Linked DNA regions of Homo sapiens. The protein of the gene in region 1 interacts with the protein of each later gene in a biochemical or structural test. Each region holds a gene or a part of one and is shown on either strand. Other genes may lie near its edges. The genes, in order: PTH1R, PDLIM1, LDB3, TJP3, MAGI1, FRMPD1 and CASK.

What was found.
Region 2: the proteins of PTH1R (region 1) and PDLIM1 interact in a test that uses a peptide from one of them, tested with the Homo sapiens proteins (one large-scale study listed by IntAct).
Region 3: the proteins of PTH1R (region 1) and LDB3 interact in a test that uses a peptide from one of them, tested with the Homo sapiens proteins (one large-scale study listed by IntAct).
Region 4: the proteins of PTH1R (region 1) and TJP3 interact in a test that uses a peptide from one of them, tested with the Homo sapiens proteins (one large-scale study listed by IntAct).
Region 5: the proteins of PTH1R (region 1) and MAGI1 interact in a test that uses a peptide from one of them, tested with the Homo sapiens proteins (one large-scale study listed by IntAct).
Region 6: the proteins of PTH1R (region 1) and FRMPD1 interact in a test that uses a peptide from one of them, tested with the Homo sapiens proteins (one large-scale study listed by IntAct).
Region 7: the proteins of PTH1R (region 1) and CASK interact in a test that uses a peptide from one of them, tested with the Homo sapiens proteins (one large-scale study listed by IntAct).

The regions. Positions count from the first base shown.
Region 1 is NC_000003.12:46,880,721-46,884,220, forward strand, and holds part of PTH1R (parathyroid hormone/parathyroid hormone-related peptide receptor precursor), read left to right. Parts: intron 1-341; coding exon of another isoform or gene 342-398; intron 399-1,274; exon of another isoform or gene 1,275-1,462; intron 1,463-1,528; exon of another isoform or gene 1,529-1,744; intron 1,745-2,791; 5' UTR 2,792-2,839; coding exon 2,840-2,914; intron 2,915-3,500.
Region 2 is NC_000010.11:95,281,004-95,284,503, forward strand, and holds part of PDLIM1 (PDZ and LIM domain protein 1), read right to left. Parts: intron 1-3,500. UniProt on the Homo sapiens protein: Cytoskeletal protein that may act as an adapter that brings other proteins (like kinases) to the cytoskeleton. Involved in assembly, disassembly and directioning of stress fibers in fibroblasts.
Region 3 is NC_000010.11:86,678,511-86,682,010, forward strand, and holds part of LDB3 (LIM domain-binding protein 3), read left to right. Parts: intron 1-856; coding exon 857-1,008; intron 1,009-1,571; coding exon 1,572-1,647; intron 1,648-2,925; coding exon 2,926-3,293; intron 3,294-3,500. UniProt on the Homo sapiens protein: May function as an adapter in striated muscle to couple protein kinase C-mediated signaling via its LIM domains to the cytoskeleton.
Region 4 is NC_000019.10:3,725,384-3,728,883, forward strand, and holds part of TJP3 (tight junction protein ZO-3), read left to right. Parts: intron 1-3,040; coding exon of another isoform or gene 3,041-3,049; coding exon 3,050-3,097; intron 3,098-3,220; coding exon 3,221-3,330; intron 3,331-3,500. UniProt on the Homo sapiens protein: TJP1, TJP2, and TJP3 are closely related scaffolding proteins that link tight junction (TJ) transmembrane proteins such as claudins, junctional adhesion molecules, and occludin to the actin cytoskeleton.
Region 5 is NC_000003.12:65,426,919-65,430,418, reverse strand, and holds part of MAGI1 (membrane-associated guanylate kinase, WW and PDZ domain-containing protein 1), read left to right. Parts: intron 1-278; coding exon 279-899; intron 900-3,500. UniProt on the Homo sapiens protein: Plays a role in coupling actin fibers to cell junctions in endothelial cells, via its interaction with AMOTL2 and CDH5. May regulate acid-induced ASIC3 currents by modulating its expression at the cell surface.
Region 6 is NC_000009.12:37,730,954-37,734,453, forward strand, and holds part of FRMPD1 (FERM and PDZ domain-containing protein 1), read left to right. Parts: intron 1-30; coding exon 31-150; intron 151-1,350; coding exon 1,351-1,487; intron 1,488-2,519; coding exon 2,520-2,646; intron 2,647-2,776; coding exon 2,777-2,872; intron 2,873-3,500. UniProt on the Homo sapiens protein: Stabilizes membrane-bound GPSM1, and thereby promotes its interaction with GNAI1.
Region 7 is NC_000023.11:41,514,555-41,518,054, reverse strand, and holds the end of CASK (peripheral plasma membrane protein CASK), read left to right. Parts: 3' UTR 1-3,121; downstream 3,122-3,500. UniProt on the Homo sapiens protein: Multidomain scaffolding Mg(2+)-independent protein kinase that catalyzes the phosphotransfer from ATP to proteins such as NRXN1, and plays a role in synaptic transmembrane protein anchoring and ion channel trafficking.

The DNA.
Region 1 (3,500 bases):
TGTCTTGAAGAAGAAGAAGAAGGAGAAGGAGAAGAAAGAAGAAGAAAGTAGCAGCAGAAGAAATACATGGGGAATGCACCTGGGAGTGCAGTCTGGAAGCTGGATGGGCTTGAGCCAGCAGAAGGGTGGCTGCAGCTGGATCCTAGGCCTTAGGACTTGGGCTTGACAGATTTGCACTGAGGGTTGGAGGGCAGGTTTGCAGGCTCCGAGGAGCTCAATATCCACAGGCTGAGTCTTGAGAGCCCCTGGAGCCCATGGGCCAGGATGCCCACCCTCGTGGAAACTAAACAGTAAAGTTAACATTGCCCTTGAATCAGCTGGCCAACCTCTCCATTTTGCAGATGAGGAAACTGAGGTCCAGACAGCCGAAGAGTGGTAGTGTCCAGGACACACAACTGGTAAGCGGGCAAGCACAGGCTGTTGCTTAGCCCAGACTCATTTCCCAGGGCCTCATGCATTCGCTTCCTCCGCGATCCTTAAAGCCCTGCGCTCCAGGCATCCCCAGCCCCTCCCTCTGCCTCAGTTTCCCCACTTGGTACCGGGAGGTGGTAGGTTTGGGGTCGAAGGGCCCCTCCTCTTAGAGCTCCAGCGTGCCCTCCCCAGCCAAACACAGAAATCCCGCCCCGTTCAGCCCCAACCCCCGCGGACTCCTCCTTGCCTTCCCCTAAGTCGAGGGTCCCAGGCGGCCCGGTCCGAGCCGGCCGATAGCTTTTGGGAGTGGGGGTGGGAACGGGGGAGGGAGGTGAAGCCTGAGAGTGGGTGTCTGGATTGAGCCCCAGGTCTGGCAGCCTCGAGCCTCCGGGGTTGGGGCTGGGCAAGCTGGAGAGGCCCGGCCAGCAGCTGAATGGGTCGAGACTCGGAGACCCGGACCCGAAGAGACGCTGGGCAGGGAGGGAGCGGGATGTGTGGCTGCAGACCTGGGCGGGGGTCGGGGCTGGCCTAGGGCCGAGAGGAACGACAGGCCTGGGATGGGACTGAGGGCAGGGGACGAGGCGAGGGTGGGGCTGGACGTGGGGGAGGGCGGCAGCAGCCAAGCCGGGCTCGGGGCTGGCAGCCGAGCGGCCTCCCCAGGGACCCCGACCCGGCCCGAACGGGAGCCCAGTGGACTGACAGCGTCGCGGCCGGGGGCGCGCGGGGGTACCGGGCAGCCTCCTCAGGGGATTCGCCCATGATGAAAGAGGGCTCGCTTCTCGGCTCAGGGTCTCTATTCGCCAGCGGGGGCCGGATGATCAAGGGAAAAAAAATTTAAAAGCCCGTGCTTTCCAGAAGAGAATGAAGCGGCGGCGGCGTCCCGGGTTCCCTGCTCGGGTCTCGATGTTACAGCTGCCCCCGCCCCGTCTCCCCAGCACTCACATCCCGCCGCCGTAAGACTCCGGGCCTCGGCCTCTAGCGCAATGTCCCGGGGCGGGGGGCGGAAGGCTCCTCTCGGCCTCTCCACACTCCCGCGTCGGCGGCTGCGGAGGGGGTGGGGGCGGGAGAGGCCCGGGAGGGCGCGGGGGAGGGAAGAGGCGCCCGGCCGGGGAGAAGGGGAGCGGCAGACGCCGAGGCGAGGGATGCGCGCGGCGGGCGGTGGCTCCGAGCGGCGGCCGGGCGGGGGGCGCTGGAGGCCAGGCCGGCCAGCGGGGGGTATCCCGAGAGCTCCATGAAGTCCCCCCGGGGCCGCGGACGGGGCGCTGGCTTGGGGAGGCTGTCGGGGGGGCCCCGACATCCATGGCAAGGCGGGGGCCGCGGCGGCGCGCTCGGAGTAAGTCGGGGCTGGGGACCCGCGCCGAGGGGAAGTGGCCGGAGTCGGGGAGGAGCGACTCCGGGCCTGGCCGGAGCAGCCAGGCTGCTCTGTCTCGGTGTCAGTCGGCGGCGCCTCCTCGGAACCCGGGGGAGTCGCCAGCCCCGCGCCGCTCGGCTCGGTGGCTTTTTTGGAAACTTGCAAATGTTTTCGTAGAGAGAAAAGGGGGAGGGAGGGAGCGAGGGAGTGACCGAAACGGAGCTTGGGGCCGCTGGAAGAACTGAGGCCAAGGCCGGGGGAGCTAGAGACGGACTGACAGACAGGCAGACCGACAGAGCGTCGGGGCCGCTGCGCGCCCGAGCCGCACAGGCGCAAGCGGGGCTCTGGCCAAGGATGGGGAAGGGGTGCGGGAGGCGGCTGCCGAGGGTCTGGGATCTCAGGAGGCCGAACGGCCGGGGGCTGGCGGCCGGAACACCTAAGGGCTCAGTGTGGCTGCAAAGTTGAGATCGCACCCCCTAACTGCACGCCCCGCGCGGCTCAGAACGCGCCCCCTGCCCGGCCCTGACTCCCTACGCCGAAAGTCGCGGAGCTAAAAATAACAGTCCTGCGCGCCCCCCGCAGACCGCGACCCCGACCCCTCCCCCGCCCCCTCCCCCCACTGGGCGTGGGGCGAAGCCACAGCTCCCATTTCCCCAAAAGAAAAAAAAAGAAAGAAAGAAAGAAAGAAAGAAAGAAAAGGCGGCGCGGGAGGGGGGCGGGGGGCGGGCCGGGGGCGGGGGGCCCGGCCATATGGATGTGATTTCTTCGCTCCGAGGCAGACGGGCCGCTCCGCAGCGCTCGGCGCCCGCCCGCCGCCCGCCCGGCCTCCGGCTCTCCCTCCCTCCCTCCTGTCCCTCCCTCCCTCCCTCCTTTGCGCTGCTCGCTCGCTCGCTCGCTCGCTCGCCCTCAGCGCATGGGCCCCGCGCCGGGCCCCGGGGCCTCGGGCCGCCGGGACGCCGGGGTCCCATAGGCCGGGGCGTGGGCGGGGCGGCCAGCCTGACGCAGCTCTGCACCCCCTACCACCACCAGGGCCGGCGGCGGCGGCTGCCCCGAGGGACGCGGCCCTAGGCGGTGGCGATGGGGACCGCCCGGATCGCACCCGGCCTGGCGCTCCTGCTCTGCTGCCCCGTGCTCAGCTCCGCGTACGCGCTGGTGAGTCCCCCGCCGCCAACACTCCGGGACAGGCTGCGGGCTTACCCTAGGGTCCGCGGGATAGGTCTAAGGCACGCAGTCTTGAGTTCCCCCAGTAGTTCGAACTTTGGGTGAGAGTCCCCTCTGATCCAGGATCCTGGGTGCCTGCTGTCTCTGGGATGTCTGGACTGTGGGTTCCAGCTGCCTGAAGCCTCCCTATTTCTGAAGCCTCGTTTGGGGTCCCAAATCTGGCAATTTGTGGTTGAGTTTTCACCATCCTCTGCTTCTGTGAGCACCATGGCTGTTTCTCCCTGGAAGATGACAGTGTGACCCAACAGAAGGCTGGGCTTTGGCCCTGCTGCGTACTCCCACAGACTTTGCTTTGGGGACCTCTGTTTTCTGCAAGTTTTGTTGCAGTCCCGGACACAGGGAATGTAGGTCTGAGGTCAGAATCATCCAGGCAGGGGGTAGGATTTAGGGGCCCCCTCCAGCCCTCACACACACACATGCACACGTCTGGCTTCACCCAGGGTAGAAGCTGTTTCCCCAAGGAGGTGGGTGTGGTGTGGCATGGAGAAGGGATGGAGTTCCCTGAAGGAGACTGACC
Region 2 (3,500 bases), on another chromosome or scaffold:
ACCCATACCTTTTTAAAGCTTCCCAGAAAATGTTAATGCTCATCAGGTTTGGAAACACCAAGAGAGATGATGACTATGACTATCTTTTCCCCTTAAACTCTCTCCCTGAATGAAGTTAAAGTCATCAGGTAGACAAAAAGTAATTAGACCCTAAAATCTCAGCTCCTCCAGAAACACCTTCAAGGGCAGAACTTATACTCCTATAAAATACATACAAAGCCCTTGAAAGGAATATCCATTAGAATAGTATTCCTCTATCTCTTACCAAAACAGACTTAAAAAAAAAAAAATAGGCCAGGCAGGGATGGCTCATGCCTATAATCCCAGTACTTTGGGAGGCCACAGCAGGAAGACTGCTTAAGCCCAGGATCTTGAAACTAGTCCGGGCAACACAGTGGGACCCTGTCTGAACAAGAAATTAAAAATTAGCCAGGCATGTAGTCCCAGCTACTCAAGGAGACTGAGGTGGAAGGATCGCTTAAACTGGGAGGAAGTGGAGGCTGCAGTTAGCTATGATAGCACCACTACACTCCAGCTTGGGCAATAGAGCAGGATGCTGTCTCAAACAAAACACAAACAAAAAAATACAGCCCCTGTAATGTTGGTTAACACCCCTGAAAATGCTATGCAAATGAAGCATTGCATAAGTAATTTTGTTGTTTTTTTTAAATAGAGATGGGGTCTCACTGTGTTGGCCAAGGTGGTCTTGAACTCCTGGCCTCAAGCAATCCTCACACCTCGGCCTTCCAAAGTGCTAGTTTCACAGGCATGAGCCACTGCGTCCAACCAGTAGAAGTATAATAACTCCAAACAAGATATCTAAATAACTCGACGTGGGTCCTATTTTCCCTTGGCCAGAAAACTCACAGCTAAATGTAGTGTGCAATTACAGAACCAACTGATTTAAAGTTCCTGGCACTTCTCTCTCTTTCCTCTTCCATGTTCCAATTTTTTGTTAAATCTTATATGTGTTCTTGTGTTTTAAATATTGTAAATGTGTAACTAAGTGAAAGACAAGCCTAAGACAAGCCTGCAAGTAAGTGAAAGAGACAGCCTAAATAACGATAGTAATAATTATATACAACTGGGATAAAGAAATGTGAGATTCAAGTTCAATCGCAATGCTACATGCCTTTAAGCATAATCTCCGCTGATTTAACAGTTGTGTCAAGGTATTTGGGTACAAATTTAACAGATTCTAAACTGGGGATAAAGCAGGACCCAGCTCTGTAGGATGCCATTTACATGTGGAATTTGAACTCTCTTTAGTCAGAATCTTCTGACTCAGTATGTTTGTGAGCCGAGGCTGTGGCACAGACTTCACAGCCATATTATGGCTGCAGAAGCTGTATGCATTTACACAGGGTGACCTGAAAACATAACACTGTTTTAAAATGTTCTTGGTTAGTCTATAACCATTTTCTCAGGGAAATGAGGCAATAAAATAGGGTAGATGCTTGTAGATAAGTTGCACCTTAATCCAGCTTCACACTATGCATGGTGCAAAAAGAAGTTATTAGTGCTAAGGGGTGACAGTTCAAAGAGACGTGCTGCTCTCTCAGTCTGAAAGACCGACCACCATTTCTCAGACAGGAATATAATAAAACAGGTAGCCAAATAGAATACTCTGACTAAATTCTTAAGAAGTCATCGAGGCCAGGCGTGGTGGCTCATGCCGGTAATCCCAGCACTTTGGGAGGCCGAGATGGGCGGATCACTTGAAGTCAGGAGTTCAAGGCCAGCCTGTTCACCAACATGGTGAAACCCCATCTCTACTAAAAATACAAAAAATTAGCCAGGTGTGATGGCGCACGCTTGTAATCTCAGCTACTTGGGAGGCTGAGGTGGGAGGATCACTTGAACCCAGGAGATGGAGGTTGCAATGAGCCGAGATCATGCCACTGCACTCCAGCCCAGGCGACAGAGCGAGACTCCGTCAAGAAGTCGTCGAGTTCCTCAAAAGTTTCCAAACAAGCTCCTATGAACCCTACGTGCTTTTAAATAGCTCCAACAGCTACCACCCATAACCCAAAGCCTAAACACTCACTAAACCTTGAGGGAATTACTCTCTCTGACTCAGTATCTTCATTTATCAAATGAAATTTATAATGCATCAACCTCATCAGGTTGCTGGAAGGCTTAAATGAGACTGCATTTGTAAAGAGTTCAGAACAATGCCTGGCACGTAATAAACACTCAATATATAGTAGCTACCATTAATATTTTTAATATTTAATAGTTTAATAGTACCACTAGGCTCTCTCTATATATCATCTTAATCCTCACCACAACCTTTGAAGACAAGCGCTATTATTCCCACATTGCAAATGAGGACACTGAATTTTCAGGGGTTAACCTGTCCAAGAACATACAAGCTAGTAAATGGACAAGATAAGGTTTGAACTAGATCTAGCAGATATCAAAAATGTATTTTTCCCTTGACATTAAGATGTCTTTAATTCTTGATTTGTTACAGTAAAAATAAGGCAGAAAGCACAAAGCAATGAAGTCCCAATAGTTCACTGAGATATAGTAATTTGGTTTTAGAAATGCTACGTGTGCGGAAAAAGTCTGGAAAGGTTTGCAGCCAGCTGTTCACTGTGTTTACCTCTGTAAAGTAAGACTGGGGAAGCCTTTTACCTTATGCTTTCTGTAGGTTTATATTGTCCGATCTTTTAAACAATTACGCGGGCTTCTATGTAACCTTTACTGAAGGATGACATGTATACAGCACAAATGGTAACGATACAGCTGATTGAATTCTCACATACAGAGCACACCCAAGGAAACAGCATGGGATAAAGAAGAGGACATTACCTGAACTGCTAAACCTCCCTGTGCCCGCCTTCCGTCACTGACCTTCCGGCAAAGGTCTGCCATGATCCTGACTGCTAACACTGTAGATTAATTCTGTCTAATTTTATGTAACTGGAATCACACAGTATTTACTCTTCACTCTTAGGTATGGCCTTTTTCTCTGTGTGTGTGTGTGTGTGTGTGTGTGTGTGTGTGTCTCCTTCATGTCACTGTGCATAGTTGTAATTTCTTCACTCTTGTTGCTGTGATGTTTTATACCATATAATTACACCCACTACTTATCTATTCTATTGCTGTTAGACATGTGAATCGTTTCAAATTTGGGGCTATTATGAATAGTGTTGCTTGGAAAATTCTCAAACTTGTCCTTTAGCACTCATGTGGACCCAGTTTCTATTGACTATTTAACTAGGAGAACTGTTGGGTTATATGGTATGGGTATGCTCAGCTTCAGAAGCATAAGTATTTTTTATTATTTTTTTAAAGAAATGGGTGCAAACTATTTGCTGCATCAACCATATTTAATCTATCTGTATGCATTTTTTTTTTCTAGATGGAGTTTCGCTCTTGTTGCCCAGGCTGGAGTGCAGTGGCGTGATTTCAACTCACTGCAACCTCCGCCTCCCAAGTTAGAGCAATTCTCCTGCCTCAGCCTCTTGAGTAGCTGGAACTACAGGTGCCTG
Region 3 (3,500 bases), on another chromosome or scaffold:
TGTATTTTTAGTAGAGACAGGGTTTCACCATATTGGCCAGGCTGATCTCGAACTCCTGACCTTGTGATCCACCCACCTTGGCCTCCCAAAGTGCTGGGATTACAGGCGTGAGCCACCACGCCCAGCAGATGCCTGCAAATTTTTAAGAGACAGAGTCTCCCTCTGTCACCCACGCTGGAGTTCAGTGGTGAGCGATCATAGTTTATTGTAACCTCAAACTCCTAGGCTGGAGTGACCCTCTCACCTGCCTCCTGAGTAGCTAGAACTACAGCCATGCACCACCACACCCTGCCAAATATTTTTATTTTTGTAGAAACAGGGTCTGGGCTCCTTTGCCTGGGCTGGCCTCAAACTCCTGGCCTCAAGCAATTCTCCTACCTCAGCCTCCCAAAGTGCTGGGATTATAGGCATGAGCCACCATGTCCAACAGCCTCCAAACCTTAATGGCTCAGAACAACAAAAGTTTCTCATTCATGCAACGTCCAATACAGTGCTCCTTAATCATCTCTCCTCCTCTCCATGCCCTGCATTCAGTCAGTCAACAAGCAGAGAGTGTGCAGGATCACAAGGATGGTTGCTAGAGGCAGACCTGGAAGGAGCATACATTGCTTCCACCCTCATTCAGTTGGCCAGAGCTAGTCCCAAGGCTGCAGTCAGACACAAAGCTCTAAGCAATGTGGTAGTCATGTGCCGGAAAGAGGAACTAGGCTTGGTTAGCAGCTGGTACTGGCCGTAGCGAATGAAAAACACAATGACGGCTTCTGTTGAATACTCCCGGGTGACTCTTCCCCAAGGACTGGCCTTTCCTCAGGACCACCTTCCTTATGCTCACCCCCCACCTCCACTATCCAATCAGATCACACCAGGCAGCAAGGCAGCCCAGTCCCAGCTCAGCCAGGGTGACCTCGTGGTGGCCATTGACGGCGTCAACACAGACACCATGACCCACCTGGAAGCCCAGAACAAGATCAAGTCTGCCAGCTACAACTTGAGCCTCACCCTGCAGAAGTAGGTGGGAGCTCTCCAGAGCAGGGGGCGGAGGTTTGGGTGTGGGCATGGGGCAGGGGCCAAAAGAGGGATTGTCCCATAGCAATTGAGTGGGCCCCGCCCTGGGCTACAAAACTGTGCAGGAAGATAAGGACAGCCCTGGGCCAGAGGAATGAACAGGCCCAAGTCGCTGTCAAGCACCTAGAGGCAGACATTACTGCCTCACTTTACAGTTAAGGCAGAGATGGTGGTCCTGGTGCTGCCCGTACGTGGGCCATTGGTCCTGGAAGGCAGGTCTTACCTACTTCCACTTTGCCCAGGCAGCCCCCAGTGACGTAGCAGGGGCCCATGGATTCTGACCAAAATGCCCAGGGGCCATGATTTCTCCATCCTCGTCGGGCCCAGGGCCTTCTTGGGGAGATCCAGCCCATGGGGTGGACAGTGGATCTGGGGCCCTCTGACTCAGCTATCTCTGAGAGCTGACTCTGGCTCTCTCTTGCTCTCTCCTCACCAGCCCTGCCCAGGCAGGAGCTTCTGGCCCCAGGGGCAACTTCCTCACCTGGTCTCATTTCTGGTTTCTACAGATCAAAGCGTCCCATTCCCATCTCCACGACAGCACCTCCAGTCCAGACCCCTCTGCCGGTGATCCCTCACCAGAAGGTAGGTGCTGACTGTGGCGGCGGGGTCCACTCAGCCCTGGTTCCTGGAGTGCTGGCCCTGGCCAGCCTGCCTGGTCTTTGGCTGGCCCAACTGGGATGAGGCCGTGGGATCAGCCCTGCCCCATCCCTGCCCCTGCTGCAGCTGACCCTGGGGAAGTGAGGCAGCCCCTTGGGAGAGACTTTCAAGCCCCTGTTGAACACTGGATGTGGGAATGAATGCCTGCCTGGGTGCAAGCCACCTCCGCTATGCCTCGTGGCTGGGCTGATAGGAAGCCAGCTTGGGCAGCAGTGTTCCCAGGAGAGGGGTCACCCTCCTGGCCAGGCAGGGGACGAGCGTCCAGGCTCTGACCTTCATTTGCCAAGGGGGCCACCGCTGGGTGACTGTGGCTGAGGCCCAGCTTGACGAGGACCTCCAGGTGTGGAGGGGCCTGCTGGCCTCACCCAGATCTCTCCCTCTGGTTTCCACTTCCCCACCTGCCCCTCCCAAGTGCATTCCCCTGTAGCCCTTAGGACGTGCTGGCAATGGCAGGCACAGGGGAGAAGGGAGGCCAAGCCCTGGCTCCAGACCTCACCACTGCCTAGGCCCTTCCCAAGGCCCCGCCAAGCAGCTCAACCCCCGAGGGCTCCCTGCTCAACTTCTCCCCCTATGTGAACTGATAGTGACCCCACCTGTCCAATGGGGCAGATTGGGCAGGGCAGTGGGGAGAGGGGAGAAAAAGAGGCTGACAGGGGTGGGGTAGGTCACAGACTGGGGAAGTGGGTGGAGGGCTGCTTGGGAGATGCTTGCAGAGGTAGACTGAGGGGCCCAAATGTGAGCTACCCAATTCCTCAGCTTCCCTCCTCACCTCCCCACCACCTGCCCACAACCAGCCCAGGAACTTCATCTCACTGGCAGTGTGGGGTCAGTGGAGCAGGAGGCTGGGCTGTGCCCACTGGGCACCCACTCTCAGGGGCAGGGGGAACAGACACAGAACGGGCCATCCCCTGACCCCTACACCCACTTCCTCGGGCCCTGGGGGCAGGAAGCTTGGCTTGGCTTCCATGCAGGGCTTGGCACTCTGCCCAGCTGGATGCCAGCCTCACGCCAGGCCAGGAGCCATGTGCCTGCCTGCTCCTCCACCAGTGTCCTCCCCTCCAAGTGCTGCGCCCAGGCGCTCTGGGCTTCAGGCTGCGGGGCTCGCGCTAACACATCTGTTTCAGGTCCACGCAGGAGCGCTGGGACGCGTGTGGCCTCTAACCGCTCTCTTCTCTCTCCCCTGCATGGCCTGCCCTGTGCCAGGACCCCGCTCTGGACACGAACGGCAGCCTGGTGGCACCCAGCCCCAGCCCTGAGGCGAGGGCCAGCCCAGGCACCCCAGGCACCCCGGAGCTCAGGCCCACCTTTAGCCCTGCCTTCTCCCGGCCCTCCGCCTTCTCCTCACTCGCCGAGGCCTCTGACCCTGGCCCTCCGCGGGCCAGCCTGAGGGCCAAGACCAGCCCAGAGGGGGCCCGGGACCTACTCGGCCCAAAAGCCCTGCCGGGCTCGAGCCAGCCGAGGCAATATAACAACCCCATTGGCCTGTACTCGGCAGAGACCCTGAGGGAGATGGCTCAGATGTACCAGATGAGCCTCCGAGGGAAGGCCTCGGGTGTCGGACTCCCAGGAGGGTAGGTAACGGACATACAGCTCTCCACAGGTGGCCTGGGCCACCTGGGTCCTCGGTGCTCGGCAGAGACCTGGTCAGGTGGTCAGAGCGAGGCACTGGCCCCAATCCAGCCAGCCCCGAGCCCATGAGGTCAGCAGTGATCCTGCGGCATTTGCCATGAGCCGGGCATGCTAGCGATTTATACAACCAACCACGCTGGGGTGACATG
Region 4 (3,500 bases), on another chromosome or scaffold:
TTTTAATCTCACCTCTAAAGTAGGAATAATAACTGTGCCACTTCCTAAGGTCACTCTGAGGATGAAATGAATGGGTCCACATCAAGCGCCTGCTTGCAGCCAGGTTCAAGACAGCCTGACCAACATGGTGAAACCCCGTCTCTACTAAAAATACAAAAAGTAGCTGGCTGTGGTTGTGGGTGCCTATAATCCCAGCTACTCGGGAGGCTGAGTCAGGAGAATAACTTGAACCCAGGAGGTGGAGGTTGCAGTGAGCCGAGACTACGCCATTGCACTCCAGCCTGGGCAACAAGAGCAAAAAACCCCATCTCAAAAAAAAAAAAAAAAACTACACAAGGAGAAAGTCATTATTTGGCCACCACCTCCCCAAGGCTCCTTCTGCTTTTTGCTTTTCAGGCATTGAATCTGTACCCTTTTCCCAAACCACATCCCTGCAAGACAGGGCAGCAGTGCCATTTCACAGATGGGGAGACTGAGGCTGGGAGAGGCCCCGCCATAGCTAGCACGGGTGGGCAGACTTGGGATTTGAGTCCAGTCCTGAGCGCTGCCCTGGCTCCTTCAGAACTGCAGAGCCCTGCCCTCTGCTCTGTTTCTCTCCCCTCCACCCGCCTTCCCACTCCTGGAGATCAGGAATGCTGGCCTCGCTAGAGACGCTGGAGCTTATAAGAAAAGGCACTGGAGCGCACCAATGGGGGGTGCCTGGGCAGAGGGAATCACACACCCGCTGTGCCAAGCCTAGAAAACCCGCCCCGGGGAGGAGGAGGAGTCACTTCTACAAACTCCCTCCCCACTCCCTCCACCTGTCCCCTGCCTGGGGAGCAGGGCATGGTGCGTGCTGGCAGGAGGGAAGGGAGGGTGGAGGCGTGGCCAGGTGACCTTGCACCTGAGTCTGGTGTTCTCATTCATGCCATGGACATGAAAATAACAGAATCTGCCTGGTGTGGAGGCTCACGCCTGTAATCCCAGCACTTTGGGAGGCCAAGGCGGGCGGATCACTTGAAGTCAGGAGTTCAAGATCAGCCTGGCCAACATGGTGAGACCCCCGTCTCTATTAAAAATACAAAAATTAGCTGGGCATGGTGGTAGACACCTGTGATCCCAGCTACTTGGGAGGCTGAGGCAGGAGAATCGCTTGAAACTAGGAGGCAGAGGTTGCAGTGAGCCAAGTTGGCACCATTGCACTCCAGCCTCAGCAACAGAGTTTTTTTTGTTTTTTTTTTTTCTAAGTGGGAAAGCCCAGGTGGGAGGATCATTTGAGCCCAGGAGTTCAAGAAGAGTCTGGGCAACACAGCAAGACCCTCCTGTCTCTATAAAAATAGAAGTTAAAAAATTAGCTGGGCATGATGGTATGCACCTATAGTCCCAGTTACTCAGGAGGCTGGGGCAGGAGGATTGCTTGAAGCCAGGAGTTCGAGGCTGCAGTGAGCCATAATGGCTCACACTTGTAATCCCAGCACTTTGGGAGGCCAAGGCTGGAGAATCACTTGAGCCTAGGAGTTTGAGACCAGCCTTGGCAACACAGAGAGACTCCATCTCTACAAACAATAAAAAAAATTAGCCGGGCATCGTGATGTGTGCCTGTGGTCCCAGTTACTTGGGAGGCAGAGGTGGGAGGATCACTTGAGCCTGGGAGTTCGAGGCTGCATTGAACCGTGATCACACCACTGCACTCCAGCCTGAGTGACAGAGACCCTGTCTAAAAAAAAAAAAGTGTGGGAGGGGGGACTTCATGGCTCTGTGCCTCAGTTTCCTCATCTGTAACATGGGGATAATTGAATGCACCTTTGATGAATGTATTAAATGAGATAGTACATGTAAGGCTGGGCGCGGTGGCTCATGCCTGTAATCCCAGCACTTTGGAAGGCCAAGGGGGTGGATCACAAGATCAGGAGTTCGAGACCAGCCTGGCCAACATAGTGAAACCCCGTCTCTACTAAAAATTCAAAAAAATTAGCTGGGCATGGTGGCACATGCCTGTAGTCCCAGATACTTGGGATGCTGAGGCAGGAGAATCACTTGAACCTGGAAGGCGGAGGTTGCAGTGAGCCAAGATCACGCCATTGCACTCCAGCCTGGGCAACAAGAGCGAAACTCTGTCTCAAAAAAAAAAAAAAAAAAAGAGATAGTACATGTAAAGCACCTGGCACAAAGGAAGTGTTTCATTCATTCACTCATTAATTCATTCAGCAAATCCTTCTTGAATCCCTGCTGCAACTCAGGCGCTGTTCTAGGCAGGGAACTGAGGGCTCAGTTTTGGACAAAGACAAAAATCTCTGCCCTCTGTGGGTGGATCAGTTGAGGTCAGGAGTTTGAGACCAGCCTGGCCAACATGGTGAAATCCCGTCTCTACTAAAAATAGAAAAATTAGCCTGGCGTGGTGGTGGGCACCTGTAGGTGCCCAGCTACTCAGGAGCCCAGCTACTCAGGAGGCCAGTAGGCAGCCAGCTACTCAGGAGGCTGAGGCAGGAGAATCACTTGAACTTGGGAGGCAGAGACTGCAGTGAGCAGAGATTGTGCCACTGCACTCCAGCCTGGGCAACAGAATGAGACTCCGCCTCAAAAAAAACAAAACAAGGCTGGGCACAGTGACTCACCCCTGTAATCCCAGCACTTTGGGAGGCCGAGGTGGGTGGATCACTTGAGGCCAGAAGTTAAAGGCCAGTCTGGCCAATGTGGTGAAACCCTATCTCTATTAAAAATATAAAGATTAGCCAGGTGTGGTGGTGCACCCCTGTAATCCCAGCTACCTGGGAGGCTGAGGCAGGAGAATCGCTTGAACCCGGGAGGTGGAGGTTGCAGTGAGCTGAGATCGTGCCACTGCACTCCAGCCTGGGCGACAGAGCCAGACTCTGTCTCAAAAAATGAAACAAAACAAAAAAACAAACAAAAAAACCTGAGGCCCTGAGAGAGGTAGTAACTTGTCACAGGCTCCAAACACAGGCCTGTCAGAGCTGGACTCCCCACCCTGAGCTGGGGACCCCCAAGTGCTCAGATGAACCTGTGTGGCCTCATGCCCATCTTCCCCGCTCCCCTCGACCAGGTGGCTGACATGGAGGAGCTGACCATCTGGGAACAGCACACGGCCACACTGTCCAAGGTGAGGCCTCCCTCTCCCTGTCTGGGTGCCAGAGAGTATGGCGGCTTAGGCCCAGCTCAATAGAGGGGAGACCCTTTACCCTGGGGGAAACAGCAGCTCTTCCTTCCCCTCATCCTCTCTCAGGACCCCCGCCGGGGCTTTGGCATTGCGATCTCTGGAGGCCGAGACCGGCCCGGTGGATCCATGGTTGTATCTGACGTGGTACCTGGAGGGCCGGCGGAGGGCAGGCTACAGTGAGTATCCAGGCAGCTGGGTTCTGGCGGGGGAGGGCACGTGGAGAGGAGAAACCAGGCCAGGCACAGTGACTCACACCCGTCATCCCAGCACTTTGCGAGGCTGAAGTGGGCGGATCACCTGAGTTCAGGAGTTTGAGACCAGCCTGGCCAACATGGTGAAACCCCGT
Region 5 (3,500 bases), about 19 Mb from region 1:
TGAATTCTAAACTTGGATTTCTGCAGTGAGATTTTTTTTTAGGAGAAAGCTCCAATGTTCTGTGAGTGATTATTACATTCTCATTAGCAGGGAAGACACTAGGTGCTGAAAGAACACTTTATTAGCTGTTAAAATCAGTAATAGAAGCACTTTATACCCTATAGTATCACACCCACATGCAGTTTCAGTTCAGCTTTATGTTAGTGGGAGATATTATAATACTGATGACAATTTTCTGGGTGCTGTTTTCTTAACCCCCACACTCTTGCCTTCTACAGGGGATGTGATTGTAAGTGTGAATGACACCTGTGTTTTGGGACACACACATGCTCAAGTTGTGAAGATCTTCCAGTCCATCCCCATTGGTGCCAGCGTGGACCTTGAACTCTGCCGAGGTTATCCATTGCCTTTTGATCCAGATGACCCCAATACAAGTTTAGTGACCTCGGTAGCCATTTTGGATAAAGAACCAATTATTGTGAATGGGCAAGAGACCTATGATTCACCAGCTAGCCACAGTAGTAAAACAGGCAAAGTCAATGGCATGAAGGATGCCAGGCCAAGCAGCCCAGCGGACGTGGCTTCAAATAGTTCTCATGGTTATCCTAATGACACTGTTTCTTTGGCTTCCTCCATAGCCACTCAGCCAGAACTCATAACTGTTCATATTGTCAAAGGGCCAATGGGCTTTGGTTTTACTATCGCAGACAGTCCTGGTGGGGGTGGCCAAAGAGTGAAACAGATTGTTGACAGCCCAAGGTGCCGAGGCCTGAAAGAAGGGGATCTCATAGTGGAAGTTAATAAGAAGAACGTGCAGGCCCTAACTCACAACCAAGTGGTGGATATGCTGGTTGAGTGTCCTAAGGGAAGTGAGGTCACATTGTTGGTGCAACGAGGAGGTAAGTAGGGTTGTTTTGTTCTTTGAATTTTTTTTTTATCCCAAATTCATTGCTTAACTTACTCATCTTCAGATGACCACTGGGGGCTTTTTAAATTTATTTAAATGTTTCAAAATGCCTACTGATTTCTCCAAATACTAACCTCTTTAGCATAAAAATTGTGGTTTATACATTATGACAGACATATGCAGTTAGAATGATACCTTAAAACAGAAATCAGATTTTGCCTTTTTAAAATGTTAAGATTTAAAAACCTAAGTTGGGTGTGGTGGTACCCACCTGTAGTCCTGGCTGCTTGAGAGGCTGAGGCAGGAAGATCACTTGAGCCCAGGCATTTGAGTCCAGACTGGGCAACATATTGAGACCCCATTCTCTAAAAAGTTTTTTTATATATATATAAAAAATAATAACCTTTATCCTTTAAATCTCCTGAACTTGGCCTGCATAGCCTGCAAAATGTGGCTATGGTCACTCCAAACTTGTCTCATGTTCCTCTCCTCCATCTGATGGTGCTTTAGCCACACTGGCTGCTTTTATGGAGCTCCTTTAATGCTTCAAGCCTTTTCTTGCCTCAGGCCCTTTGTATTTACTGTCCGTTCTGCCTGGAATGGTCCTTTCCCAGCTCTTCCCAGCTGGCTCAGTCCCATTCAGGTCTCCTTATGAGAGAGGGCTTCTCCCATCACTTTATCTAAAGTAGCTCCCAACACTTCCATATAATCTTTATCACAGTTTTTCATAACCTTGATCATCATCACCTTTTTAGCACAAGACGTTATTTCATGCTTTTATTTATTTTTCATTATTTGTCTTTCATTAGAATATAAAGCTCCATAAAGCCAGGGCCCATGTGTGCATGTGGACAGCTGTTATCCCCAGCATTTAACACAACACCTGACTCCTTTTAGGTATTTATGAATGAATAGGTATTAAGTGAATAGGTATGTGATTATTTCTATTTGGCAGAAACAAGAGGTCTGCTAATCATATTAAACACTTCCCTCCACATGCTCGCGTTTAGTAGTTTAGGATCTCAGAGATCTGGGTTATTCTAAATCTCGAGGCATTAAGCTTCCTCCTTTCTCCTTGAGTCCGTATCCCACCCTCTGCCTCACCAGAAAACACAGGACGTCACACTGAGCAATACTTTCCACCATATTGAAGTGTCTTGCTCCTGGAATATATACTTATATGTGATTAGTCGTGACTGATAGTTTTACACAGTGGGCCTGAGAATGGCTGTTTCCCTGATCCTTGCTACCATGATTTGTTTCATGAACAACATATTCAGGCCTTTTGAAAAGAGATCAAGAACCAGACTTTGACTTCCTTTTGGTTTGTTGCAACAGGAGAGCTCATTTGTGTCACAGCAGCCAGATTCTCATGTTTTCATGAACCTGTGTGTTCTGCGATCAGAATGGCTGGGGTCATTTGAAGGAAACCCAAAATACAGAGTAGCTGTCTATGTGAATTGAAATGCTCAATGAGCCTGGCTTAGGCAGTTATAAAAGGCATTGTGCAAATTTTATTTTTTTTAAAATGTCATTTCCACCAACTAATTTTCAAGTCTCTTCTTGTACCTAGATCACTTGACTGCTCAGAGAACTGGTTTTAAACAGTAGCCAAGATGTATGTAGTAGGAAATGACTTGGGTATAAGAACGATTATGACAATAATGATGATGGTGATGATGAAACCTGGCACTTATAGAAGAATCAGTGATACACAAAGCACTTTCATACCTGCACGTGCCTCTCCACTGATATTTGTCACTTCCCTGTGAGGTAGGAAGGTGCCACCCCACAGTAGTTCTGAGCTGTTCACCCTGGCTCTGTGGTTTCCAGTCCAATGTTCTGCCCTACTTAACTGAATAACACTGATTTTTGTATAGTTGCTTAATACTGAGGCTGACAGCCTGGAAACTTTCAAATAATTCTTGGTACATCAGGTGCACCTCTGATTCAGCCACTGCTCATTTGACAGACACAAACCACCTTGTTCTCCTAACTCATCTATCCTCTTTCTCATTTCTGTTATTGATGTGGTTTATTATCCCATTAGATTCACTTCTAAGGAGACCAAACATAAAGTTTCATTATAGCCAACTAACTTACACATGTATTAGAACCATATTGTAATGAATTCGCCTAAGCCAGCAAACAACTGATTATAGAAACGTACTCCTTGATTTTATTTTTTATTTTTATTTTTGAGACAGGGTCTCACTTTGTCACCCAGGCTGGAGTGCAGTGGTGCCATCTCAGCTCACTGCAGCCTCAACCTCCTAGTTTCAAGCGATCTTCCTGCCTTAGCCCCCCAAGTAGCTGAGACTATAGGTGCATGCCACCACTCCCGGCTGATTTTTGTATTTTCAGTAGAAATGATTTCTCCATGTTACCCATGCTGGTCTCGAACTCCCGCGCTCAAGGGATCCACCTGCCTCGGCCTCCCGAAGTGCTAGGATTACAGGCATGAGCCACCACACCTGACTATACTCCTTGATTTTAAATATGTTTGCATTCTCTCTTCTTAATTCCCAATGCCATCTTCTCATTAATGGTGTTACATTTTATAACATTTATATGAAAAATCCGGAATATATTG
Region 6 (3,500 bases), on another chromosome or scaffold:
GATTAATAGTATCTCCCTTACCCATCGCAGGTGGTAGAAAGGGAGGAGTCACATGACTACCGCTGCCTCTTCAGGGTCTGTTTTGTTCCCAAGGACCCCCTGGACCTCCTGAAAGAAGACCCCGTGGCCTTTGAATACCTCTATCTGCAGGTGACTGGGTCTGTGCTTCCTAAAATAACAGTGGTTGTTCTCAAAGATGGTGCACTGGGTGATTTTGAACGTGAGCTCGAGGCCATTAAACAACTCCCTGGTAGGGATTCTCTTTATCTGAAGGAGAATGGGCCTGATCATCGCTCAGAATTCCCTTTTCCATCACTGAGTTGCTGTTTTAGCAGGTGTGCGATATCAGAATGAAATTCAGGCTCAGTCCTCAATGTAGATGATACATTTTCTAATACCATTTTAGGATCTTTAGAATTACAGTTTTTATTGCCAAAAGGGGCCTTAGTGCTTTAAAACCTCGTTTTAGAATGATGACACTGAGTCTTGGAAAGGTCGTGTGATTTGCCTGGGTCACTCACTTAGTGGCAGAGCCAAAACCTGGTTCTTGATCCGTGGCCTGGTGCTCCCCCTATTCTACCTCCTTAGATGAGAGTTATGATGCCATTTTTATTCTGATGAAAAATAATCATTTGGAGCCGGGTGCGGTAGCTCACGCCTGTAATGTCAGCATTTTAGGAGGCCGAGGCAGGTGGACCACTTGAGGTCAGGAGTTTGAGAACAGCTTGGCCAACATGGTGAAACCCCGTCTCTACCAAAAATACAAAAAATTAGCCAGCCGTGGTGGCACACACCTACAGTTCCAGCTGCTTGAGAGGCTGTGGCAGGAGAATCACTTGAACCTTGGAGGTGGTGTTTGCATTGAGCCAAGATCATGCCACTGCACTCCAGCCTGGGTGACAGAGCGGGATTCTGTCTCCAGAAAAGAAAAAAAAAAAGAAAAAGAATCATTTGGCAGATATCACCATTTTACAGATGAGATAACTCAGACTAGGTGGATTGGACTGCCCCAAGTCTTACAGAAATGGTGGCAGAAAATAATAATAATAGCAATAACAACGCCATCAATACTTTATATTTGTATAACACTGTGTGCCTTATACCTGCTTTCATATGCATTATCTAATTTAAGTCTCACAGAAACCACATAAGGTAGATTTTACTATCCTCATTTACCAGACACCAAATGCTTGGAGAGTCTTGGTAACTTAACCAAGGTCACACAGCCAAGAACTGTCAGAGCCAGCTCTCAAAGCGGAGCTCCTGGTCCTGCTGCCTTTCACCCGAGAGAACGAGGGGACACAGTATGTCTGCTTTTGTTTCCCATCTGCTCTATTTAATCTCTTCTAGAGCTGCAGCGATGTGCTCCAGGAGCGCTTTGCTGTAGAAATGAAATGTAGCTCTGCACTCCGACTCGCGGCTCTGCACATCCAGGAACGGATCTACGCCTGTGCCCAGCCACAGAAGATCTCTTTAAAGTATATAGAGTGAGTGGCAGGGGATGGCAGCTGCATTGCATTTATAACTTGCTGGCCCCTGGCCAGGAGGGCCAGATGCCACAGAAAGCTGATAGTCACCCACCTACCCATCTGTCTGTTGTCTTTCCATCCATTTCCCTCTGCACCCTCTCTAATCTGACCTGGCTCCCCCAGATGTCTGAACCTGGCTGCTCTCTCTGGGACAGAAGCCAACTCCAGATGGAATGTCACAGGATTCCCTTGTAAATTGCCTGTTCCTGGGAAGATGTCTTGGGAAATCAGTTGCCAGCATCAGTGTTAAGCTTTTCTAGGGGTGGGAATGCCTTGGAAGTTAATTTTTCCCGTGGATATGAACCAGTTCCTATTGCATTATGTCTCCACTAGAGCAGTTTCAAGTCCTACGATTCCAGCACCTTCTGATTCTTAGCTTAGAATTGTTCTGGACAGCATCACTCAGGTTTGCTAAGCCCCTCCCCAGATCTCAGCTCTGTCCTGCCTGAGCATCAGAATCAGATGGGGAATCATATTTTTAAAAATACAGCATATCCTTGGCCCTACCCCTGATGTACTAAGTCCAATCTCTCGCAGCAGGGCCTGAGAATCTGTAGTTTTAGCAATTTTCTGGGGGATTTTGAAGCTGCTAGGCTGGCACCATGCTGAAGCTTAGCCTAGGGGATTCACAGGAGCTCTGCGTTGCCCCATGAGAGTGTCTTGTACTCTCTTGTATGCTGTCATTATTTGCCATGTATTTTGTAGTGAAAAAGATTCAGAACTCCTGCTCTGACTGATAGATGGTCACACCACACCAAGAGTAATGAGCTCCCAGAATGATCAATGGGGTTTAGTTCCTGAATGCCTGTGGGGATTTTTGTGGAGAGTGTGTGTATGTGTGTGTGAGAAAGAAAAAGAGAGGAGGAGAAAGTGGCTCGTAATTGCTGTATTATGGGAACACTAAGTACTGAATCAAATGTAATTATGCTCTTCATTAGAGCCAAGTACCCTGTAGAAATGGGCCTCCTTGTCTCCAATGTCTCATGGCAGGAAAGACTGGGGAATAGAGAACTTTATATCTCCAACTTTACTCCGAAACATGAAAGGCAAAGACATCAAGAAAGCCATTAGCTTCCACATGAAGAGGAACCAGAATTTGCTGGAACCCCGACAGAAGGTAATGAAGGTGCCTCTGCCGACCCACTCAGCTGTCGTCTGTGAAACCTTAGGAAAAACATTTTCAACACTGCCTGGATTTTAGACCAATGAATAACTCTGACTTCAAGTGTTTTTTTTTCTCTATTAAGCAACTTATTTCTGCTGCCCAGCTACGTTTAAATTATCTACAGATCCTCGGAGAACTCAAGACATATGGTGGAAGAATCTTTAATGCTACTTTAATGGTATGTATTAGAGAACTGTGAAATCCTACTCACGTAAGGGACCTTAGAGATCCTCTGAAAATCAATGTGTCTTTTAGCCTAAAATTCCTGAGGACTCTGTCATGTACTAGAATTTGTCTGGTAAACTAAATAGTACACCACTGGAAAATATTTACCACGCGTTTGCTTGGTGCTACCCCTGTGATAGATGCTAGGGGAAGCAGGGCTGAATAAGATGTGATTTCCGTCCTTGAAGGATGAAACAAGCTACCCAACAAAATGAAGCAAAGCCATGAGACAGGTTCAGGCCTATTGCTGTGGAGTTTGGAGACAGAAGGTAGCACTGCTTGCTTCAGGGTAAGTATAGGGAGGAGAAGGGGTTAAGGAAAGAGGCAAGAGGAAGCCTGAATTTGGCCAGACTTCAGTAGAGAGGAAAAGGCATTCTGGGTCAGAAGGGGATGGTAAGCAGTTCACTCTGGAGCTTTGGGTATATGAAGGTGAAGAGGAAAATTGGAAATCATGAAAGAAAAATAAGAGTGTTTGACTGCCAAGCTGAGTCTCTGATTGTTCAGAAGGGAGGAATGAGGGGTGGGCCTGAGAAGAGAAACGAGAAGCAGAAAAGCCCTCTGCTCTCTTCCCATTCTCCTGC
Region 7 (3,500 bases), on another chromosome or scaffold:
CACAAGCACTGTAGCACTCATCCTCAGTGGCTTTATACGTCCTCTGAGAAGCACACAGGCAGGCATCATTCTTGCCATCATTCCGATGGTGAAATCCCTGCATGCAGAACTCATTGACTTCTCAAAGATGTTACCTGTTCCATTCCACTAATACATGTCTTCTCTAAAGCAGTGTCTTTATGACCTAGCTGCATATACTTACATTTCTGAATTCAGAGTAATTTCAGTACATTGCTGCTGCTGCTGCTGCTGCTGCTGCTGCTGCTGCTGCTGCTGCTGCTGCTACTGCTACATTACAATTGTCCACTAAGCAATCAGAGAAAATTGCTAAAAGCTTCTTTACTGCTTCCATTCCATCAGCAGAACCTTTTTTTTTCTTTCTTTCTTTTAAAGACCAGAATGAATGTTTAGAGTACTAAATCTTATTAGTGGTCAATTGAAGTATTGGAGAGCCACATTTTGAAGGTTCTCTCCCCCACCCAACTCCATTCCCCACAGCAAGAAAGGGAGTGTTTTTATATGTTGAATTCTTTGTTAAAAAGATGAAATGTCCTGATTTTCCAGTCACAAGACAGTAATTACTTTGCACATACAGCATATCCCATTTTAATGCTAAAAAGGGAAATGTCACTCAATTTAATTCATCTGGAAGTTTCCCAGTGTCAAGATAACATTGTAGCCTTTTTAAATGCAATTAAATGTATCTCTTGTCAGGTGAGATGATTTAAAATCTTTGCTCAGAGAGGAAAACAAATGGTTGACCTACTTCTTGCTATTTGCATTCAGAAGGCATCGTCCCAGCCCATCCTATTGGTGGCAGAATATCTAAAGATGTCGCAAAGTCCCCCACTGCAGTAGAAATGCAGGAGGTGTTCCTGTTCCCCGTCCAATTCCTTCTTAGGCTGCTAGAGACAGCCAGTGGGCCAAGCCTTCCCCTGTGCTCCAGGCAGGCCTGGGCTGCAGCTACTGTTACCTTTTTACAGCCTTTGATCTGATCGCTGCAGAGTTCTTTTGTTTTTAAATCACTTGTATTTGTCTCTTCATTAAGGCTTCAAGTTTATTTCTTGAAAAAGTTTAGTCAATTGAACCACCCTCCAGGAAGATTCCCAGCGTGGAAACTGCCCCTGAAAAACAAGGCAGCCCAAAGCCAGCTCTCTTTTGTCCCCCACTGATGTCATGTCCTTTTTTTTTTTCATTTCAGGCCAGTTTCTTAACTTGGGGCAAAGAGAATGTGTTGCTAAAGCTACCAAGAAAACTGCTTGATTAACAAATTCTTAATAGAAATGCCTCCCACACTGTCTCTTTGAAAAGAGAAGGCACCTTGGAATCGGCATTCCAAAACCAAGCTCCTTGTCATCCTCATCCCTCCTCCTTCTTGCTTCCTATTATCAAACTCGTGTGTGTTTCTTGTTTTCTCAGAACTGAACACAGCCTCCTAATTCCATCCTCTTGACTAGGGCTTACAATACTGAGAGCGATTACAGGCTGTAATAAGTTAAAGGTCCCTGAGCGTGGCTTTCTTGTTCTGCGCCTCTAATTAATTCTTCTATTAAAAGATGCTTTCCTTCTCACTGCAGCTTACAGAAAGGCTACAAGCTTTAATCACAGATCATTTCATTTGCCAGAGCCTTTCCTTTTCTAACTCCTTTAGAAATAAGATTTCCCTCTCTGTTTGGAATCTCTGGATACAGGACTCTCCTCCAAGCTCATGGCTTGATTGGCTTTGCCTGTGCACACACACATCAGTTTGCCTTAAACTTGGAGCTATGGGGAGTCCCAGATTTTCCAGCTTAGTGGGTGAAGTTTAGCTGTCACCTACATCCAGGAAGTGGGGGAAAAGGGAAAAAAAGAGGATATTCACCACCATGTTCCCATCCGGTCTTTCCCCTGCCTTGCTTTGTGCAGCAGGTGGGCAGACAGAGCCCACAGAAACAGAAGTAGAAAGAGGGCCGCACCATCTCTGGGGCCAGCACTCCTAAGTCTTAGCTCTTTGTGGGAATAGAAAATCCTGAGCTCCCACCACCTCTCGTCTGACCCTCCATCAACTCCCTCGAACCTGTGCAAATGGACTGAGCAAAAGAAAATGGAAAGAGATGTTTGTCACCACACAGGAGACCTCCTTTCTGGCCCCAAGCACAACTCCATCTCTGCGTATGCTCAGAAACTCAGAATTTAGCTGCTACTTATGTGTTAGCTCCATTCTCTCTGGTGTGTGACTGAGAGAACACGCCAGTGTTCTTACTGACAGAGGCTTAGGGGTGACCCTCTCTGGACCCAGAGGAAGTACAACCTCTGTAGCGAGAATTGTCCTTGGGAACAGAAACAGGCATTCCTCCACAGTGAGTGGCTCCCCCTATTTTTTTTTTATTTGGAAGAGACCAAGAATTGGGGGAATTGATTTCCAGTCTTAGCTGTTTCCCGGAATGTCATCTGTGCAGGCAGGTAGGCGGCTGCCGGGTGCAGCAGGCAGCGTGACTGATGTGAAGGCCGCCCAATCCTCACGTGCTAAGACCCGAGTATCGTGTTTAATTGCAGTGTAGGCACGTCGCCATTCAAACTCAGTTCTGGGGTGGTTTTGCATAAAGTTTTGCCAACGTGTTCTTTTTTCTGTATGTATTATTGCCTTTTTATAAAAGGTGTTGAAGTATTGTCTCAGTGATAAAAAGAGAGAGATGTTAATGGTTGTTGTATATTTCACCGTATCCAATTGTAAGTATTTGCAGGGTACAGCAGAGCCTTAGCTTGCAAGAGCGTTTGTGCAGGAGGTGTCCCTCAACACCCAGGAGCTGAAGGGATTGGAAAGGTTTGGATTCTTTGTAAATGTCCTGCTTTTCTTTCTCTCTGTGTGTATCTATTTACATGCCTTAGCACACGCCCTCCCATCCTGATCCCTTTGCCCTGTCGCCGGAACAACCAGAATGCTGGTGCGCTGCCGGCACAGTACAAGTTGATGAAACCCTAATCAGTTATCTTGTGTGACAGGGGAAGAAGAGAAACTCCATAGTATTCCTTGTAGAATATACATACCTGTAGGATGCTGTGTAATGGGAAACCATAGAATTGGGCTTTTGTCATTTCAAAGTTGGAGAAATGTATGAATAAAATGTATAAAACATGAAAAGGCAGTTGTCTCCTCAGATTGCAGGCCAAACAGCTTGGGGACAAACAACAGAGGGTTAAAAGAAGAGGGATGGCCTGATTTCTAAAGGCCTCTGCAGAGTTCATCCACACAGTTAGGCCTCAGACACCTTCCCACAATGGTTGGGGTGGGGTGGGGGTGTTGCAGAGGGACAGCTCCTGGCCCTGTAAAGGAGCACGACCCAGGCTCCTGGTGCCCATCCTGCAGGTTTCAGTCTTCAGCCATGGCTGTTAACAGACGGCATCCTGCAAGCAGTTCCAGCTCAGTTGCTTGCATTTGGATGCAGGCTTAAAATAGCTTCATCTTAAAAAAAAAAGAAAAAAGAAAAAGTCTAAGTTGTGACATCTCCTAGAAATAGAAG